Linked DNA regions of Homo sapiens: regions 1 and 3 are each reported to be linked to region 2. Evidence: microRNA targets listed by miRTarBase, many of them from high-throughput screens and not tested one by one. Region 2 holds a microRNA gene; each other region holds the end of a gene's coding sequence.
Evidence for each region. Region 2 holds the annotated microRNA hsa-miR-4271 (GGGGGAAGAAAAGGUGGGG, at 1,516-1,534, opposite strand). A microRNA usually pairs through its seed, bases 2 to 8, with sites in the 3' UTR of a target mRNA and lowers its output. Matches are read on the target gene's strand: a 7mer-m8 pairs with bases 2 to 8, a 7mer-A1 pairs with bases 2 to 7 and ends in A, and an 8mer does both.

Region 1: miRTarBase lists SUSD6 as a target of hsa-miR-4271. Seed matches in the 3' UTR shown: 7mer-m8 at 754-760.
Region 3: the mRNA of WDTC1 is a reported target of hsa-miR-4271. Seed matches in the 3' UTR shown: 8mer at 516-523, 7mer-m8 at 1,551-1,557 and 7mer-m8 at 1,573-1,579.

What each region holds. Positions count from the first base shown.
Region 1 is chr14:69,710,572-69,713,571 of GRCh38, reverse strand. SUSD6 (sushi domain containing 6) reads right to left here. Exons shown (of 6, transcript NM_014734.4): 6 at 1-2,618. The coding sequence ends at 2,593. Among named protein-coding and RNA genes, the nearest start is that of SRSF5, 55 kb to the left of the region's middle. RefSeq lists an enhancer at 86-380.
Region 2 is chr3:49,272,350-49,275,691 of GRCh38, reverse strand. MIR4271 (microRNA 4271) reads right to left here and starts at 1,572; the gene lies at 1,506-1,572. It overlaps C3orf62 (chromosome 3 open reading frame 62), which reads left to right. Exons shown (of 3, transcript NM_198562.3): 2 at 1,552-1,643.
Region 3 is chr1:27,305,954-27,309,295 of GRCh38, forward strand. WDTC1 (WD and tetratricopeptide repeats 1) reads left to right here. Exons shown (of 16, transcript NM_001276252.2): 16 at 233-2,683. The coding sequence ends at 430. Among named protein-coding and RNA genes, the nearest start is that of TMEM222, 15 kb to the right of the region's middle. RefSeq lists enhancers at 1,303-1,828, 1,829-2,354, 2,355-2,879.

The sequences.
Region 1 (3,000 bases), not on the chromosome of region 2:
TAAGGGACAAAGCCCAGAAGCCCTAGAAATAGCAGCACATGGCTGATGGTTAAGAAATTGCTTTGGAAGAAAGACATAACTGGAGGAAGAAGCTGTCACAGACTTCAGCAGTGAGGGGAGAATGAGCTCCTGCACTCACAGGCCCAGGAGCCTCTGGGAAGTGGGCCTCATCAAAGCCAGTGACAAGAAGGAGGGGAGGAGACGAGAGGGGAGCCAAGGCTCCCATTGTTCTAATTTCTTCCTTTCCTACCAGGTGGGCAAGCCTGGGCTTGTGCTCCTCAGTGTTGTTAGTGGAGGGCAGGGCGGAAAGAGGCTTCAGGAGAAGGAAGGCTTTTCATTTCACCAGGGATCAAGCTGGTCATCTATGCAGCTGAATAAACCCCAAACAAAAAGTGCAATCTCTTAGGGGGACAAAACCCCAGAGTAACAAGATAGAAAAAGGTAAGATCTTCCATTTTAAAAACCATTCTAGAATAGAATGCGGGTTTTGAAACAGTGAAAAATAAAAGCTGAAGGCTCAGCAGTGAGACTTCAGATTACCACCCCTCCCCCTTTTGTCACTGCTTTCTGTTTTGGAGGAAGACAAGGGCACTGCTGTGGGTGAGGTAAGGCGACTGGGGCCATTAGGGACAGCCCTCCAGGTGGGCCCATGCTAGTCTCATCTGCCTTCTAGTTCTAGCACCTTCTCCAACCAGCTCCCTACCTAACTATGCTTTCCTGGACTCAGCACAGCAGATGAGGGCTCCTGGGGGAGGGGAAGTGTGGGAGTGGCCAACAGGCACAGCAGGCACTGCCCTTACCCTGAGAGGAAGGAAGGAAGACTACAAGTGGCAGCAAGAGGCCAGGGAATGACCGGGTGGTAAAGTGCGTGTGTAAGCGCGGAGGCAGGAGGCAAGAGGGTAAAAGGCTGGGAGAAGACCACTCCCCTCATCTTCTAGGCCACCCACGCCTGGAGCCAACCCTGTTAGGTAAGGTACTGAAAATAAACTGGGATTTTTATTTTTACCACCCCCAAGCAGACAGGCTCAGGGGAGGAGCAGACATGCAGCACAGGGTCCGCTTCGAAGTTTCCCAGCCACAGTGCTTCAGAAAATTTCAGAAAAAAGCAAAACAAACATTCCTTACTGCTGCATCTATCTTCTAAGATGACAGCAGTTGGCAGAGTTCGTCCACCCCAGCCTAGTTAGCATTCAACACATGGCTATGGGAGAGCGCCCCTCATCAGTGGGCTCCTCCCCCAGGGCCCTGTACTCCAGGCTGCTCCACACCCCTCTGCCCACCTCAGGCCATTAAGGTTGGGGTGCACACGGACTGTTTCTCAGCCCTTCCCCCAGGGGGCCAGGGAAGACAAGGAATTGCTTGTCAGCTGTGACATGCGAGGGGTGGCAGGGAAGGGCAGAAGTAGGAAAAGCAGCAGCACAGCAAGCAGCAGGCCACTTCCTGGGCACAGTTACTAAGGCACGTGACCATGGTGAGGAGGATCCTCAGGACCGGGCTGGAGCTGCCTGCAGCCACCCGGGGACTTGGTCTGTGCCTCTCGGCCTCCCCTCCGTCACCACAAACCCAGAAAGGGGCAACCTGCCCAGACTGCCAGTGACCAGATGGGCACTCCATGGCATCTCAGCAAGTCTCCTTCCTGCCCCAGGCCCCTGTGGGCAGCAAGAAAGCCAGAGCTATCTGGGATAAAACCCAGGAGGCAGCATGCAACTTCCCATTATACTCCAGGGAAACAAAAAAAAGACAAGGCCAGGAAGGCCGATGCTGGAAGTAGGAAGTGAGAACTTGCATATTAGGAAGACAATCATTATCAGCCATTTTCCTTCTCTCCCTTGGGATCTTCTGGATGCTTCTTGGAAACTCTCAACTCAACAGGGCCAGGAGCTTGTGCCTTTGGGCCAGATGGCTGGGTCCTGGGCCAGCATGGACATGATTCTCCAAATCTTCCATCCTCAGCCAAGGAAATATGCCACCAGGGTCAACCCAGGGCAAGCCCAGGGACTACACTCTCACCCCAATTAGAGCCACTTCTGCCACTCTTGACTCAAGAGCTCTCACACCTGGATCTGTTCCTGCAAAGGGCAGTAGGGGCAACCCTCAAAGGAAACAGGACAGACCCAGGCCCGGCCCCCTGTGTGGCAGGGGGCAGCAGTGCAGCCACTAAGGCTTGTGGACAGCAACAAGTCTGCATGACAGGGAAACTGGACAGGGTGGGGGAAAGGCACAAGTAAACACAGCAGCACTCAGGCCCACAGGAGCTGGTGGGGGCTGCCGCCAAAGAGCTGGCTGGAGGGGACCCAGAGGCTTAGGAAAAGGGAGGGTTTGATCCAGCACATTCAAATATGTCTCTGACAGATGGGAAGGCGGGGCCAGGCAAAGAGCCAGCTCCTCCAGCTGTCCAACAGGCAGATGGCGAGAATCTTCCTTGAGTTTCCAGCAAGGTGGGCCTATAGGGCCCTCAGAGATACACAGATACACAGGTGGCAGCTCAGGTATCCAGGTAAGGTGGCTGGAGAGTACAGGGTGCTCAATCCCACAGGGAGAGGGAGGAAGGGCTGAGAGAACCTCGCAGAGAGGAAAGGCTGGCCGCTGCCCTCATGCTTCTTTCAACAGTGGAATATCTGCAGGAAGACCAGAAGAAAAGCACAGTGGTTACCTTGTGTGGAACTCTAGAGCACTCTCGACCCCACTGCAACTTAGGGGCTATCCTACATAGCCCCTAATTTAAAGAAAGTAAATGTCCCACTCATACACTTCTAGGTAGGCAAAAACTCCCTACCTCCTTTTTTATGACTTTCTAGCTTATCTTTCCCAGTGCCTATGTGAAAAAAACTCAATGTTCAGCCTGGTATTCAAACCATCCTCCTCTCTGCCTTAGCTCTGCTGGTCTAGTCACTTCCCTTTCTCTCCTAATTCCACCCTATGAGGCTACAAAGCCCTGTGAAGTCCCACTGCCTCCTAAAGCCATCTGCCAGTCGTGTGACTTTGGATAAATCACTTCCC
Region 2 (3,342 bases):
GGGCGTGGTGGCGGGCGCCTGTAGTCCCAGCTACTCGGGAGGCTGAGGCAGGAGAATGGCATGAACCCGGGAGGCGGAGCTTGCAGTGAGCCGAGATCACGCCACTGCACTCCAGCCTGGGCGACAGAGCGAGACTCCGTATCAAAAAAAAAAAAAAAAAAAAAAAAAAAAACTTCAAAGTTCTGCCATCTTGGCTGCTTCATAGGAAGGGGATAAAGAGGCCATTTAATTGGTTCAACTCCACAAGAATTTTTTTCCTTTCAACTCCACAAATATTTATATTGGTACTCATAAGCAGTGCAGGCCTTGCCGGGTGTGGTGGCACGCCTGTAATCTCAGCACTTTGGGAGGCTGAGGTGGGTGGATCGCTTGAGGTCTGGTGAAACCCCGTCTCCACTAAAAATACAAACATAAGCCGAGCGTGGTGGCGCGCGCCTATGATCCCAGCTACTTGGGAGGCCGAGGCAGGAGAATTGCTTGAATCCTGGAGGCAGAGGTTGCAGTGAGCTGAGATCTTGCCATGGCACTCCAGCCTGGGCAACAGAGCAAGACTCCATCTTAAAAAAAAAAAAATGCTGGGCACAGTGGCTCACGCCTGAATCCCAGCACTTTGAGAGGCTGAGGCGGATGAATCACCTGAGGTCAGGAGTTTGAGACCAGCCTGGCCAACATGGTGAAACCCCGTCTCTACTAAAAATAGAAAAATTAGCTGGGTGCCGTTGCGGCCGCCTGTAATCCCAGCTGCTCCAGAGGCTGAGACAGGAGAATCGCTTGAACCCAGGAGAAGGAGGTTGCGATGAGCCGAAATTGCGCCCTTGCACACCAGCCTGGGCGACAAGAGCAAGACTCTGTCTTTAAAACAAACAGGCCAGGCGCGGTGGTTCACTCCTGTAATCCCAGCACTTTGGAAGACTGAGGCGGGCAGATCACCTGAGGTCAGGAGTTCGAGACCAGCCTGGCCAACATGGTGAAACCCCCATCTCTACTAAAAATACAAAAATTAGCTGGGCGTGGTGGCAGGCGCCTGTAATCCCAGCTACTCAGGAGGCTGAGGCAGGAGAATCACTTGAACCTGGGAGGCAGAGGTTGCAGTGAGCCGTGATTGCGCCATTGCACTCCAGCCTGGGGGACAAAGCGAGACTTCATCTCAAAAAAATAAATAAAAAATAAAAATAAATAAATAAGTAAACAAATGCAGGCTGGGTGAGGTGGCTCATGCCCGTATTCCCAGCACTTTGGGAGGCTGAGGCGAGTGGATCGCCTGAGCCCAGGAGTTCGAGACCAGCCTGGGCAACATGGCTAAACCCTGTCTCTAAAAAAGAAAAAAATTTAATACAGTCTGCGATGCTCGTGAGTCATTATGGTAAAGCTGTTAGTCAATTTCTCCACTGATGTAGCAGTTTCCAATTGTCCTTTAATCAAAGCATAAATGACAAGGTCACCAGTAAGTTTTTGTCTTTGAGATTATCTAAAACTGAGTTTCCCTTCAATATTTTCTTGAAAGAGAATCTAATTCCCCACCTTTTCTTCCCCCCCACCTGGGGGCTGCAGGAAAGATATGGAGAGAGATTTGAAGGCTGACTCAAACATGCCACTCAACAATTCTAGCCAAGAGGTCACAAAGGATCTGCTTGATATGATTGGTGAGTACAGTGGGCAAGTCCATCCTGTCCTTGGGAAGATAGGTCCTTCACATGGGTCTGAGTCAGCAAATATCTCAGATATAAGAAATGCTCTCGGCCAGGCACGGTGGTTCATGCCTGTAATCCCAGCACTTTGGAAGGCCGAGGAGATCGAATCATGAGGTCAGGAGTTCAAGACCAGTCTAACCAATATGGTGAAACCCCGTCTCTACTAAAAATACAAAAATTAGCCAGGCGTGGTGGTGCACGCCGGTAATCCCAGCTACTCGGGAGGCCGAGGCAGGAGAATTGCTTGAACCCGGGAGGCAGAGGTTGCAGTGAGCTGAGATCTTGCCACTGCACTCCAGCCTGGGGGACAGAGTGAGACTCCCATCTCAAAAAAAAACAAAAAACACTCTCTTCTAGCTTGGGTACCATACATAGCGAGATCTGTCTCTTAAAATTTTTTTTAATTAGCTGGGCACAGTGGTGTGTGCCCATAATCCCAGCTACTAGGGAGGCTGAGGTGGAAGGATCACTTGAGCCCAGGAGTTCAAGCTATGATCATACCACTGTACTGCAGCCTGGGCAACTGTGCGAGACCTCATCTCAAAAGAAAAAACACCACCACCACTTTTTGGGGGGAGAGACAGAGTCTCATCATATTACCCAGGCTGGAGTGCAGTGGCACGATCACAGTTCACTGCAGCCTCAACCTCCCTGGGCTCAGGTGATCCTCCCAGCTCAGCCTCCCAAGTAGCCATAGTACTACACTAGTACTACAGGTGCACGCCACCATGATTGGCTAATATTTGTATTAGGGTTTTGCTGTGTTGTCCAGGCTGGTCTCGAACTCCTAGTCTCAAGTAATCCACTTACTGTGGCCTCCCAGTGCTGGGATCAGGCAAGAGCCACCACTCCCGGCCAAAACACTCTTATCTTTTTATTTGGTAGATGTTTTGCTCAGACTCTGCATTGATTAGGGAACTGAATGTTAACAAAACCTGTCCCTTCCCTCATACAACTGATTATCTTGTGAGGTGATAGATACATCAATCAGGTCATGTCATCAATGTTTAGATGCACTGAGTCCCTGAAGGCAAGGGATGGTGGCCACTAGGACATGGTGATTGAGCTTAAATTTTTAGGAAACAGGACATAGGCAAAAAGGAGAGAGTAATTTAGCTGGGGTCAGTAATTAAAGATTAGGAGAAAAGGGCTGGGCACAGTGGCTCACACCTTTAGTCCTAGCACTTTGGGAGGCTGAGGCGGGCAGATCACTTGAGGTCAGGAGTTCGAGATCAGCCTGGGCAACATGGCAAAACCCCTTCTCTACTAAAAACACAAAAAATTAGCCAGGCGTGGTGGTGCACACCTGTAATCCCAGCCACTTGGATGGCTGAGGCATGAGAATTGTTTCAACCCAGGAGGCAGAGGGCAGAGGTTGCAGTGAGCCGAGATCGCACCACTGCCCTCCAGCCTGGGTGACAGAATGAGACTCTGTCTCAAAAAAAAAAAAAAAAAAAAAAAAAAAAGATTAGGAGAAAAATTAGAAGTCAAAAGCTTTCCTATAATTCTACCACCCAGAGATAACCACTGTTAATATAGATATAGTATAGCATACATCCTGTCAGACTTTTTTTCTACATACAAATCTGAATGTCCTGTATGTGAACTACATGTGCTCTATTTTTTATTTTGTCTTTTTATTATTAGTAGT
Region 3 (3,342 bases), not on the chromosome of region 2:
CCTGTATATCCTGAGGTGGCGTATCTCCCATATATATTCCAGCGTGAGCACCCCCAACAATATGTAGCCAAGGTTGTGTGTTCCCCTCCACCATATACACCTCCTGGCATGTATGTGTACCTCCCCCTATAGATAGTTTAGTCTGTGTATTTCCCTCCCCCTCCCCTATACGTGTACCCTGGTGCCTCTCCCTCCCTGAGCCCCACGTGTGTCACCCCTTTCTCCACCACAGAGTGAAGACCTCACAGGCCGAGTCGTGGAAGATATGGAGGGTGCTTCACAGGCCAACCAGCGGCGCATGAATGCAGACCCGTTGGAGGTGATGCTGCTCAACATGGGCTACCGGATCACGGGCCTGAGCAGTGGGGGTGCCGGGGCCTCTGATGATGAGGACAGCTCTGAGGGCCAGGTGCAGTGCCGGCCCAGCTAGACCCTCCAGCCCTGGTCCCCAGCCCCTGCTACTGGCTGGACCCTCTGCCCTGGGCAGGAGGTCAGGGGATTCTGTTTTGGTTTGTCTTCCCCACCACCCTTTTTTTTCATTTCCCCTGTTTTGTTTGTTAGTTTGGCGTTAGGGGTGGAGGTTGCTACAACTTGCTGGCTTTCGGACTCTGGGCTGATTGTCCCCTGACTATCCCCAGCCCTGAAAAAAAGAGCAGGAGGGGACACCCCTCCATATGCCCCCCCCCATCTCCTGCTTTCATGTCCCTGGAGGGCTCTGGCCTGCCTCAAAACCCCTTCTGCCTCAGGTGGGGAGGAACAAGCTGAACTGTCTTCAGGGACTGTCCTGCCCTTTAGCTGGCAGCAGCAGGAGGAGTGGGATTCCCAATTGGTAAGGGCTCGCCTTGGCCTGTTGCCACTCTTGCTCCCTAGCCTGCAAGGCTAGCTCCCCTGTGGTCTTCAGGAAAGGTTTTGAAAAAGGATGGGTCCCACCCTCCCTCCAGAGCCACCAGTGTTAGAGCGGAGCCCAAAGGAAGGATGGGAGCCCTGGAGTGGGCAAGACCAGGCCACCTGCTGAGGTCGCTGTGGAGCACCCTCGCTCCTCTCCTGGCTACTAGCTCTGGCCCTGCACCTACTCTCACTGGCCACCTCTGGAGGCTCTGCCTTTCCCAAGGGCCCTGGCAGAGGGTGGGGCACTGCACCTTACCCCACCCATCCATGCCAGCACTTCTGCACTACGGCCATTCTCCTCTTGGGCGCTCCTCAGCCTCACTGTGACCTTTCTGCCAGAGCTCCCAGCCAGGCCTACTCTGCTGAGGTGGCGCTTCCTGCTAAGGGCCCTTCTCTGCCCTTTCTGCCCTCCTTCCCATCCCACATGCTGAGCCGCCACAAAGACCAAAGAAGTGATGGCTTTTCTCTGTCCCCTGCTGCTCTGAGGGGAGAGGGGTGGGTCTCCTGAGCCACTCAGATGGGAAAGTCCCTTACTCGGCCCCTCCCTCCCCAGCAGCCCCAAGCTTTACACTGGATGCAGCGATCAACCCACCACTCACCAGGCCTCTCCTCCCCTCTGCCCCCGGCTCTTAGCTCCAGCTGCTCCAGGTAGTTGGTTCATCCTTCCCCCTCTCTCCCTCCCTGCTTCCCCTTCAGTGCTTACTTGGCTCCAGCCCTCCAGCTGCAGCCCCTGGGGAAAAGCAGCCTCCCTTCTCCTCTCCCTCCACTCCCTCGCTCCCTCCCTCAGCCCCTGTCTCTGCCAGGTGCCTCCTCTCAGTCAGGCTTCAGAGCAGCCCTGGAGACAGGAGGGCCATGTTAAAAGCTTTTTCACAGTTTTAAGAAGACAAGTGGAGGGTGAGGATAGTGGTGGGGGGTCTGGCACCATCTCATTGCTTTAATCCCAGCAACACAGGTGGCAGCTTCTCCCCCTTCCTTCCCACCCCAGTCCCTCTTCCCACCCCTCTCTTCTAGCTTGGTAATGAAGTATATTTATTGGTGAAGGAAACAGCTGCTGCTGCTTCTCCTGCTGCTGGGACCTGCTCCCCTGTCTCTTCTCCGTGACCTTTCTCTAGCCAGGGAGAAGGGAGAGCAGGAGTATTGGGGCTGGGCCCTGGGGCCCAAGGACCAGCTGGGTCCCCTTTGCTTTCTTGTGTTCCAGCCACCTGCCATTTCCTCCCTGCCTCCCACCCTCCCTCCCTGCCCCCTGTCCTGCTTCCCACCCCCTGCCTGCCCAGCCTGGGCCCTGCAGTGTGGAGAGACACATAAGCCTTACTGTCCTCTGGGGGCAGGAGCCGAGCCTTTTTGTTGCTCCGCTCCCAGGAGAGTGAGGGTGACGCAATTGATTAAAACCATTTTGTTCTAGGTGTGGCTGGTGGCATTTGTGGGGTGCAGATGGGTCTTGGAACCAAAGTGAGGGCACCTGGTCCCTCACCTCTGTAGCTCTATGACTTAGTAACCACACCTCTACTGGACAGAATGAGGCCTGCCTTGAAGGGTCACCGTGAGCAGCGGCCACCCAGCCCAGCAGGGCTGAGTGCAGAGCCCAGCTCTCATGGCTGTGATTTGTAATCATCAGCTTTCACTCTCTGGCTGTTTTCTCATCAGTAAAATAAGGGACTTGGAATCTTAGTGGTTTTTCAAACCATTTTACATTGTGACCCAATATACACATGATTACTTGTAGATATGTGTGTGTGTATATATATATAAAAAAAATGAACAAAAGTTTTACACAATAATATTTACCCTTGCTACATGCAGTGTACTCTGCTTACCCTTCTGTTTTATTAGGGAAAAAAATATGGCTATAACCCACTAAATTGATTTCACATATGCAAGTTTTTGAAGTGCCCTGGATTAGATAATCTCTTAGACTATAGGTTCCTGAACTTTCTTAGCTCACAGCACCATTACCATCTCAGTAATTTTTTCATGGAGCCTCTAAGCCAAAAGAAATAACAGTTCAATTTATTAAGTAGTTAAGTCCAAATCACTTAAAAAGTATTTATGTCCTAACAAGTTAGTTGCCATTTAAAAAATAATACACCTGAATTGGAAGAAACAATATTTATTTCATTCTTTTTTTTTTTTTTTTTTTTTGAGACGGAGTCTTGCTCTGTTGCCCAGGCTGGAGTGCAGTGGCATGATCTCAGCTCACTGCAACCACCGCCTCCCGGGTTCAAGTGATTCTCCTACCTCAGCCTCCCAAGTAGCTGGGATTACAGGCATGTGCCACCATGCCCAGCTATTTTTTTTTTTTTGCATTTTTATTTATTTTTTATTTTTTATTTTTTTTTTGAGACAGTTTCGTTTTTGTCGCCCAGGCTGGAGTGCAATTGTGCAATTGCGGCTCACTGCAACCTCCGCCTCCTGGGTTCAAGCGATTCTCCTGCCTCAGCCTCCCAAGTAGCTGGG